Homo sapiens: one gene and its partners. The protein of the gene in region 3 interacts with the protein of the main gene of each other region in a pairwise test. Each region holds a gene or a part of one and is shown on either strand. Other genes may lie near its edges. The genes, in order: CHN2, ANKS1A and RANBP3.

Region 1 (3,732 bases), on a different chromosome or scaffold from region 3:
AAATTTGGTTCTGAAGATGAAAAAAGCTGCCGATGTATAGAAAACAGTAAAAGCATAGAAGATATGCCATGTTGATTTCATTATTTACATATTTAGCAAACAGTTATTGGGAATCTGTCATGTGCCAAGCACCATTAAGCCCTGATGAACCATGGAAAAGAGATACTCTCTGCCAACCAACAGTTCTAGTTAGACTGACTGACAGACATGCAACTCAACAATGACAAGGAAATAGGAAGATTGCTATGCTGAAGAAGTGTGGAGAATGTGGGGGGATGTGGAAAAAGGAAGTGGAGCTCTGAGGTTAGCTTGGGGTAGTCAGCGAGGCTTCCTCAAGGAGGAAAGGCTTGAGCTGACCCCTGATTACAGGTGTTTGCCAGGCAGAGAGGTGAATACATTTCAGATAGACAGGACAATGTGAGCCAAGGCACTTCTTCATGGCAACAAATAGGGTGTATTTCAGGATTGCTGGAGTGTGCAGTACAGTAGGGAGGAGGAACTGGAGAGAAGTCTGAAGAGAGAGGGAGGGCTACCTCACTGATTTCACATACCACACTACAAAGTAGAGGCTCTATCCAGTAGGCTCTATCCAGTAGGGCTTCCATGTCTTGACTGGCTGTACCAGAATTATTTGGATTGCTTATTAAAAATACAGATTCTTGGGCTTATCCAGCTTTCTGAATGAGTCTTCAAGTTGGGTCCCAGTGACCCATATTTTTAACAGGATCCCCAGGATGGCCATGATATCTGACTTAAGAGATAGTATGTTCTAGAGAATATACACCACAGTTATAAAGAACAAAAGCAGTTCCCTCCTACATGTCCACTGCCTTCCCCTACATTAGTGCTGGGGGTGCCCTCCCATCCCTATGATCCCTTCTTTGGAGCTTTGAGAGAATGAGAAGAATGGGATTCTGAGACAGGGGATGCAGATGGGTACTCCAATGCCATGTGGATTGTCTGCCCATTGACAGTGATCACTTATCAATGGCTGTGAAGGTAACACTTCACCCAGTGAGGCAGAAACATGAGATTTGTAAGCCATTATTCCTCCGTTTCTTGAAGAACAACTCTTAGTAGTTCTGAAACCCCATTTCTACTATGATTAAAACCTACTTCCAATCGAGAAGGGTGTTAGGATGTCAGATGGCATTCAAGAAAGTACAAGCTTACCTCTGTCAAATGCCATTTTGACATCTTCAATGTGTTCAGTGAACCCAGAGACTCTGTAAAGGCCTTCCGATTTTAATCCTGTTAGAGAGAGAGAGAGAGACTGACTTTAGCTTCTTGAAACATCTAAAAAAAAAAAAAAGACTAATTTCACGTCTATACTACATGCTATCAGAAAATGAGCAAACATAGACAGTGATTTTATTTATCACACACTGTTGCATCAGAACTTGGACTTGTCTGTCTCAATTTCCCAGGCAAGTCTGTTCTCATTTGCCCATGTAGCAGTGGAGATCTCAATGGAAATCCAGTCTTCATCCTTCCCTGCTTTGCAAAGAGAACTGATATTTAAGATTCCCATGGACCGTTCCCTTACTTCCTTTCCTGTGTTCATGAGCTTGATGGACATGAATTTCGTCATCGTAGGAAGCAACCTGGCTTTCTTCCTAGCATCATCTTTATTAATTTTTGTGGGTACACAGTAGGTGTATATATTTATGGGGTATATGAGATATTTTGATACAGGCATAAGATGTGTAATAATCACAGCAGCGCAAATGGGGTACCTAGCATCATCTTAATCCATGTGCTATATTGTATGTAGCACTGTACTAGATACACACATGTATGTATGTGGGTATCTAATCTGTATTACTCTGATTGTATTGGAAAAAATTAGACTATTACAGCCTTTCATGTTTACTTGTAAATAAGACTATGTTAACTGTTTAATTAAAAACGGTTACTTGTTATACTTTTAGACAACTGATTATACAAACAGATGCAGGAAAATAAAGTTTTGGTTATTGCTTCTGGAAATTGGATCACTGCAAATTTAGGCTAAGAAAAAAAGACATGGTTTCTGTCCCTGGAGCTTATTGATTTGTTAAGATATGTCCTAAAAACGAGTCAGTTCCCAAAAGTATGAGCAGGGATAAAGGACTGGGTTTCAGACTTTGTATGTCACAAACTAGCTGCTATCAAAACTATAGCTACAGTAAAAATGAGCAAACAAATAGCCTCTGCTGCTGCCGCCATATATTCTGCCAAACTCTTGATAACTCACATATTCTCCTGTTTTTTCATTTGGAAAACATTTATGGAGTATGTATTATCTGCCATATATAAGGGTCTTCATTAGGTATGCATCAGAGACAACAAATACGTGGCGTAAATCACGAATACTTCCCCTCATCCCTCCTGTGACCATGACAGATACTCTTAGTTGATCTCAGCCCTTTTTCCCACTGAGCCCTATTTAGCCTCAGAATTCATCTCAGTTCCAATTGTTCAGGTGACCACTACTGATCAACTGGAGTTGCCACACAAGACGAAACCTGTGGGTCATCCTGTTCTAAGATGTTGGTGCATATGAGCACATCTCATTCCAGTTGGAACATGCACTGCCACAGAGGCACAGACCCAGTGGATTATGGGAGCCCCTAGCAGTGAACAATGAACCCTGCCTGTTGATGGATGAATCAAAGTTCTGGCCTCTGGTGAGGCTCTCTTTCTGGCTCATAGATGGCCACCTTCTCTCACACGTCCTTTCCTTGGTATATGTGCATGGAGAGTGAGAGAGCGAGCTTGCTCTTTGGTGTCTCTTCTCATAAGGATATTAGTCATAATGTTTAGGGTCCCTCCCTCAGGACCTCATTTAGCCTTAATTATTTCTTTGGAGACCTCCGTCTCCAAAGACAATCACACTGGAGATTAGGGCTTCAATATGTAAATTTGGTGGGGCAGGGGACACAAACATTCAGCCATAAGATTCACTGAGTCACTTTCAAAGAAATCCAGGTTTTCAAGGAACGTAGAAAAATCCATGCTTTTGTTCTCACTCATAAGTGGGAGTTGAACAGTGAGAACACATGGACACAGGGAGGGGACCACCACACACCGGGGCCTGTTGGAGGGTGGGGGTCAAGGGGAAGGAGAGCATTAGGACAAATACCTAATGCATACAGGGCCTAAGACTTAGATGACAGGTTGATAGGTGCAGCAAATCACCATGGCACATGTATACCTATTTAACAAACCTCCACATTCTGCACATGTATCCCGTCACTTTTAAAAAAAAAAATCTATGCCTTATATAATATGCCAAGTTGTATGGTTTGGATTATAATTAAATGGGGGTAATTTTCCTGACTTTAGCCCATGCTTCACTGAGCAAAGCGTCACCCTGTATTACATCGAGATGCTTTTTTAAGAAGCTAATCTTTGAAGGAAATGATAAAGGATGGTTAGAGTTTGCCAGAGTAGCAGAAGTTGCCAGCTATCCTTCCAATATTTGTTCTCCCATTCTTCTGTTGTAATGGAACCTTTGATTTTTAGAACAATATCCATTGCAGTGGCCATTAAACTCTGGCCCATGTGAGAGCAGAAGTGACATTTACAGCTTCTGTGGCCTTGAAGGAATGGAGCATGCTCTTTTCCACTTCCTGTTAAGTGAAATGCAGATGAGATGGTGGTGGCCAACTGTGATTGTGCACGCAGGATAGCACTCAAGCAGGACAGAGCAACAAGCTGCAGTGCCTGGGTTCCTGCCACGGTGGAACA
Region 2 (3,500 bases), on a different chromosome or scaffold from region 3:
TAATTAATTAAGATAGTTTAGTGGAAGACCCAGAAAACTGCTATGCTAGTGGATAGTTGCATTTTATCTTGTTTTTGCATTCTCTTAGAAGAGCAGGAACTTAGATCAGACAAATTCAAATCCACAAGATCTGTTTCCAGGCCCTTCCATTCTACAATCCTTACATGGTCAGTGTTGCCCTCTTCCTTAAGATGTTAAAATCATTTTGCTCAAAATAGGCACTTTCAAAAGAAATCTGGCACAGTAGTGGGCAAAAGTAAAAAGGTCAGCATGAGAAAAGGCTGTCACGCCATTATAATCTCCAAGGTTCAGATCCATTCTGGGAATGAATAAAGGACCATTTCAATAGAATGGTTATGCTAATCACTGTTTAAAAAATAATAACACTAACAAGAGGAAGAAGTCTAGCCTGGCATGGTGGCATGTGCCTGCAGTCCCAATAGCTCAGGAGGATGAGGCAGGAGGATCAATTGAGCCCAGGAGTTTAAGGTCAGCCTGGACAACATTAGCAAGACTCCTGTCTCTTAAATTTTTTTTTTTAATTAAAAAAAAAAAAAAACCAAAGTCCTTAAATAAATATTAGGAAGCTTTCTTTACAACAATGAATTACTTGCCATATTTTCTGACATTTGGGAGAATCTGTTATTATCCTCCAAATGAGGTCCATTTTTCAAAATTTTTCATGCTTCATTCCTTATTTCAGAACATTTTCACATCTTGGGAAATTCATATCTGTTTTGGAATAGTTTTCTTTTTCTTTTATTCCCCCAATGAAATGGCAGCATAAAAATTAGTTTAAAGCCACATTCATTGCTACTATCTATAAATTTTCAGATTCTCCAGCAAGTCTCCTTGGCTTCCTCTTTTCTTATTCACCCTTCTCATGCTTGAGAAATTAAGCATAAAATATTCCTAAACCATAACATAATCTCCTCAACTGTGATCTTCGGTTTAGTTTCTCTGTGCTTCTGAACCCTAAGAAGTACATTTCACTTTACTTTTCCATTCATATACATCAGTATTTAGTTCATAACTCAATTTACAGTTTGAAGCTATTGTGGCTGGTTTTCTTTTTTCTTCTTTTTTTGGGGGGTGGTGGTGTGAGGACGTGGTCTAGCTCTGTCACCCAGGCTGAAATGCAGTGGAACAATCTTGGCTCACTGCAGCCTCAACCTCCCAGACTCAAGCAATCCTCCCACATCAGCCTCCCGAGTAGCTGGGACTACAGGTGCACACCATCACGCCTGGCTAATGTTTGTATTTTTCGTAGAGATGGGATTTCAGCATGTTGCCCAGGCTGGTTTCAAACTCCTGGGCTCAAGTGATCCAGCTGCCTCAGCCTCCCAAAGTGTTGGTATTACAGAGGTGAGCCACTGTGCCTGGCCATGATTGGTTTTAACATTTCCTTTTCTCAGATCTTTTTGGCCTTTTAGTTGATAGAATTTACTTTTAACCAAATCTTACAATATTCTTATACAGGAGTTTCTTTCTTGGAAATCAGTATTTCACTATAACTCTAAACATAGCAAACTGTCTTGTTACATGAGAATCTGAGTGCCCGCTACGTGCCCAGAACTAAAAAATACTGTAAGTTAAGAAGTTTGATAGAATGCCTATCCCAAGCTCCCAAGGTATAGACCGAAGGCATGCATCCATTAAACAATCAGAAAATGAGTTAGTATTATATAAAGTATAATCCATGCAATCCAGAGCCTCTGTAAGCCTAGACATTCTGGATAACTGTGCTTTCTAGATAATCTATTGCTTATCCTTTTAAGTAAAAAAATTATATTTAAACCATTTTGGATAGAAAACTATATTTTTTTTCTTCTTTCACTAACAAGCTATATTGAACATAATTTAATCTTTATTTGATGGCTAACAGTCATAATAAACATAAATCATAGCACAAAGATACAGTAAACTGATGCTTGGGGCTTACATAGGTATATAGGGCTATATACACCTATGTTAATAGCTTCAAACAGCCGGGAGGTAGGATAAATTATGCTAAATTTGTGTGCTTTCTCTGTCTCCTTTTTGTTGGCCTGTTACACAGACGTATCATACTACTATAAACTCTGTAAGGGAACAGAACATGTATGAAGAGAGGGGCTAATTCTGACAGACCACGTACAATGTCCCAGGTCTCAGACATATTTTGCAGTGCATCTAGCAATCACTTGGCCTGGCACAAAGTATATCATGGGTAAACATTGGGTATATGAATGATTCCTCTCCCTTATTTACTCTTTCTAGTCTGCCATGCTTGGAAAACAGATCCCCAAGCATGAAAAAACACCATTTAAAATGTGTCAGGCAGGGCACTGTGGCTCACACCTATAATCCCAGCACTTTGGGAGGCTGAGGCAGGAAGATCGTTTGAGCCCAGGAGTTTGAGACTAGCCTGGGCAACATAGTGGGACACGATCTCTACAAAAATAAAAATAAATAATGTGTCTGGCATGGTACTTTGCACAGAACAGGTGCAACACAGCAAAACCGTATGTGCTGAACTGAGGATGACTAAGACTGAGGACTTAGAATATGCCAGGAATTATGGTAAGTCCCGTACACACATTATCTAAGATGATACCTATAAGGCAGATAGTATTATCCCCATTTTACAGATGCAGAAATTGAGTATCAAAGTGGTTAACTTGAATAATGTCAAGCAGCTAGTCAGTGGTGGCAGTGGAATGTGAATCCAGGAAGTCTGACACAAAAACAAGTGGTCTTAATGCTATAACATGCTTAATGCTAAGAAAAAGTGGACAGTATAATGCTATACTGTTCCTGAATAAATATCCAGTAAATAAGGAAGGCTAGAAGAACACAAAGTTTGTAACAACATGTTTTTCTAGTAGAAGTCTTCTTTGCTGACTTTCTGATTCTCAGGTATAGCATCAATCGGTGAGGGTTGCTATATGTAAACATTATACTGACAGGCCAAAGCGATCAACTGTGAAAGCTAGGCAAGCAAAGTACACTACAGATGACGTGCTCCAAAGACATGGAAGCTTGAGAGATCTGTGTGTATTAGGGTCATCAGGAAGGGCTTTAAGAAGTTAAAACCTAAGCCCAAGCTGTGTAGAGGAAAAGGGATGGGTAAGAGAAGAGGGCATTTTTTAGCTTAAGAATAAACACAAAGCCTTTGTGGAATACGGGATGGGGGAACACAAACAGGTGAATACACAAACACATGTGTGGTCTGGAACAATTATTCCACTGCAACTGTAAGCTCCTATTTCTGCCAGCTTTACTTCAGGCAAGTTACAGTTGGCAGTACAAATAGGGGTAGAATATGGCCGCTAATACAAAGGCCAAATCTGAAGCTATGATTCCACAGCTCTCATTAAATAATCCAGGGTCTTTAGGGGAGAGAGGGTTGGGAGCAGAGGTAACCTACCCTTCACTATGTCCACATCTAAAAAGGGAGGACATACTGACCTAGGCATGGTCTCATTTGCTCAGAAATCTTTTACTAGCTTTAACCAGAG
Region 3 (3,732 bases):
TTTGTATTTTTAGTAGAGACGGGGTTTCCCCATGTTGGCCAGGCTGGTCTCAAACTCCTGACCTCATGTGATCCACCCGCCTCGGCCTCCCAAAGTGCTGGGATGACAGGCGTGAGCCACCACGCCCAGCCCGAGACATTTTTGATGGTTCAGGGAATGACAAAGACTGTCATACCAAACATATTCTCTTGTCGCCCAGAGCTGGCAACTGTATTATTTGTCACCTGGCATCCTGTGGTGTCTTCGTAGGGAAAAGATCAGGTGCGGCCAGAGGTTCCACCCCACCGTCCCCTCCTGGCATCCCCCATTCCTGCTCCTCAGGCCGCACCACCCGGCTTGGGCAGCATCCATGTGCTTCCTCTCCCGTGGCACATAAGCAGGTGTCTGTGTCTGTAAACCGGGTGGCGTATCGTGGCGTTCTTAAGAGCACTGTTCTTTTTTCCCACTTACCACTTTGTCATCTGTTCATGTTGAAAGAGATTGACTTAGGGGGTATGTGGAAAGCCATGTAGGGGTGTCTGTCTCGTATTTTTCTTTGTTTATATATACAAAACTGCTGTATTGAAATATAGTACAAATGCTATATAATCCATCCTTTTAAAGCATACAATTCCGTGGTTTCTAGTATATTCACAGAGTCAGACAACTTTCACCAGAATCTAACGTACAACATTTCTGCCCCCAAAAAGAACACTGTCCCATTCCCCCAGAAAGAGCATTGTCCATTCGCAGTAACTCCTCCTCCCTCCCCAGCCCCTGGCAGCCACAGATCCACTTCCTGTCTCTGTTTTTTGCCTGTCCTTGACATTTCATATAAATGGCATCAACGCACTATGTGGCCTTTCGTGTCTGGCTTCTCTCGCTGAGCCAGAGGTTCATCCACGTTGCAGCGGGGGTCGGAGCCTTGTTCTTTATTAAGACTGAGTGAGATGCGCTGTAGGGGCGGACCATGTGTGTCACTCCATTCCTCCTTGAGACTTGGCTACCGTGAATGATGGTGCTGTGCACGTTCATGTGCGATCTGTGTGTGAACACGAACAAATGTTCCATTTCTCTTGGGTACATACCGAGGAATGGAATTGCTTGGGCATGTGGTAATTCCTTGTTAAGCAGTTTGAGGAGCCGCCAGACTCTTCCACAGCAGTGGCACCATGCGGCCTTCCCGCCAGCAGTGTGTGAGGGTTCCAGCTTCCCCACATGGGTATAGCCGTCCTAGAGTGCGCAGAGAGGCTTCTCACCGTTGTTTTGCTTTTCATTTCCTTAGTGATTCTTTTAATTTCAGATACCCCTTATACAATGTAAAGCCTGTTCTAGCTTGAGGGCAGGACAAAAAACTGACCAAGGTGGCCCCCAGGCCGTCGTTGGCTGGCCCTGGCAGTCCCCACAGGCTAAAGGGCGACTCTCAGGGTGTGGCTGCAGCAGGACACCAGCTGGGGTCCCTGCTTACCGGCGGCCACTGTGTTCCAGATGCAGTGCAAGCTGTTTGTCTTTGACAAGACCTCACAGTCCTGGGTGGAGAGAGGCCGGGGGCTGCTCAGACTCAATGACATGGCGTCCACCGATGACGGCACACTACAGTCCCGACTAGGTGAGCTGCCGACGGCGGGGGCTGTGGCCGGGTCCCCATGGGGAGGGCTGGGGACTATGCAATTCCAAAGGGAATGAAGCGGGGGAGATCCTGACCCTACCCTTGTGAGAGTCAAGGCACAGAGTCGGTCTCCCATGAGAGCCGCCCCCCAAACCCCCTCCCTGCACCCAGCCCTCAACACCACCCTCACACACTGGCTCCAGCTGCCAGCTCGTCCGTGACCCTCTTAGTGTCAAAATGGACAAAAGTCTATGGAAGTTTTTAAGCTGATTTTCTGACAAAGTGGCAGGTTTATGATAGAAAGGAAAATGAAATCAAACATCAAGTCTAATCTCTTGATAAAGACAAATTTTGGCCAGGCGCAGTGGCTCACGCCTGTAACCCCAGCACTTTGGGAGGCCAAGGTGGGCGGATCACCTGAGGTCAGGAGTTCAAGACCAGCCTGGCCAACATGGCAAAACCCTGTCTCTACTAAAAATACAAAAATTAGCCGGGCATGGTGATACATGTCTGTAATCCCAGCTACTCGGGAGGCTGAGGCAGGAGAATTGCGTGAACTTGGGAGACGGAGATTGCAGTGAGCCGAGATTGAGCCACTGCACTCCAGCCTGGGCGACAGACCAAGACTCCATCTCAAAAAAAAATAAAATATACTGTTTTTGAAAAGCTTTCATGTTAATATTCCATTGACAGTCAATGGACTTTTCCCTATTGGTGGACATTTAGCTTGGAGTACCTGCATACACACACCCACTTAAGGAAATCAGCCTGTGTGTGTGCACATTTGAAATGTGGGCGTGTCTTTTTTTTCCTTCTAAAGCTGATTTCACTCCATCACCCAGGCTGGAATACAGTGTGATCATCGCCTCAAATTCCTGGGCTCAAGTGATCCTCCCACCTCAGCCTCCTGAGTAGCTGGGACTACAGATGCACCACCACGTCTGGCTAATGTTTTTATTTTTGTCTTTATAAAGACAGGTCTCCCTGTGTTGCCCAGGCTGGTCTTGAGCTCCTGGCATCAAACAGTCCTCCCACCTCAGCCTCCCAAAGCGCTGGAATTACAGGCGTGGGCCACTGCGCTGGGACCATCTTTTTGTTTTATCTTCCCAAATCAAAGTGTCTTCTGGCCTTTTCATAAATATGGGTTTCAGGCCCAGCAGTAACTCAAGCAGCCCCCTTGAAGGGTAGTGTTCATGCACTTCAATCAGAAACACTGCTCTGGTCAGAACAGACAGGGGATGTCCCTGCAGGCTGGGACTGCTCTTTTGTTCCCCATGGACGTCTTTTTTTTTTTTTTTTGAGACGGAGTTTTGCCCTTGTTGCCCAGTCTGGAGTGCAGTGGCTTCGTTTCGGCCCACCGCAGCCTCCACCTCCCAGGTTCACGCGATTCTCCTGCCTCGGCCTCCCGAGCAGCTGGGCTTATAGGCACCCGCCACCAAGCCTGGCTAATTTTTTTATACTTTAAGTAGAGACAGGGTTTCTCCACATTGGTCAGGCTTGTCTCGAACTCCTGACCTCAGGTGATCTGCCCACCTAGGCCTCCCAAAGTCCTGGAATTACAGGCTTGAGCCACTGTGCCCAGCCTTATGGACGTCTTCTTGTGTTTTTCCTTTTGTCTCGTGGAAATGTTCAAATGTCCATGGAAAGAGAGGGCATAGAGCCCTGAGCCCCCAGGTCATCCCCTCTGCCTGGGTCATCAGCCTGTAGCCCCGTGGCAGCAGTACCCTCCCCAGCTTCAGGGAGAGCAAAATCACCTCTGTCTTTCTCCCACTCGGCCTCTGAGGTGGGCACCTGGGCTCAGGGAGGTCTGTTCGCTGGGCCAGGGCAGGGGGACAAGTTTCTGACCGTCTCCAGGCCTGCTCCAGTGGGGAGAGGCGGCTGGCAGGAAGGTAGGGGCTTGGCTGAGTCCACGGGGTGGGCCCAGGCCAGGCGCAGGGGTGTTGCATCCTCTAGAAGAGTCAGGGCCCTCCCATTTTCCTCCGTAATCTGCTGCCCACAGTCCTCTCGTCTCCTCTCCATGGAAGCGCTAAGCTGCGGTCCTACTCTGCCTTCTCCTAAGGAAACCAGAGGGCAGGGCTGGCCCACTCAGGGGAGGCCAGTCAGGAGGACGTGGACTCCCATGGAGGCCGATGTCTCACACACAC

The links.
Region 1: the proteins of RANBP3 (region 3) and CHN2 interact in a two-hybrid assay, tested with the Homo sapiens proteins (one large-scale study listed by BioGRID and IntAct).
Region 2: the proteins of RANBP3 (region 3) and ANKS1A interact in a two-hybrid assay, tested with the Homo sapiens proteins (one large-scale study listed by BioGRID and IntAct).

Annotation. Positions count from the first base shown.
Region 1 is NC_000007.14:29,502,263-29,505,994, reverse strand, and holds part of CHN2 (beta-chimaerin), read right to left. Parts: intron 1,252-3,732; coding exon 1,174-1,251; intron 1-1,173.
Region 2 is NC_000006.12:34,892,255-34,895,754, reverse strand, and holds part of ANKS1A (ankyrin repeat and SAM domain-containing protein 1A), read right to left. Parts: intron 1-3,500. UniProt on the Homo sapiens protein: Regulator of different signaling pathways. Regulates EPHA8 receptor tyrosine kinase signaling to control cell migration and neurite retraction.
Region 3 is NC_000019.10:5,919,057-5,922,788, reverse strand, and holds part of RANBP3 (ran-binding protein 3), read left to right. Parts: intron 1-1,467; coding exon 1,468-1,588; intron 1,589-3,732. UniProt on the Homo sapiens protein: Acts as a cofactor for XPO1/CRM1-mediated nuclear export, perhaps as export complex scaffolding protein. Bound to XPO1/CRM1, stabilizes the XPO1/CRM1-cargo interaction. In the absence of Ran-bound GTP prevents binding of XPO1/CRM1 to the nuclear pore complex.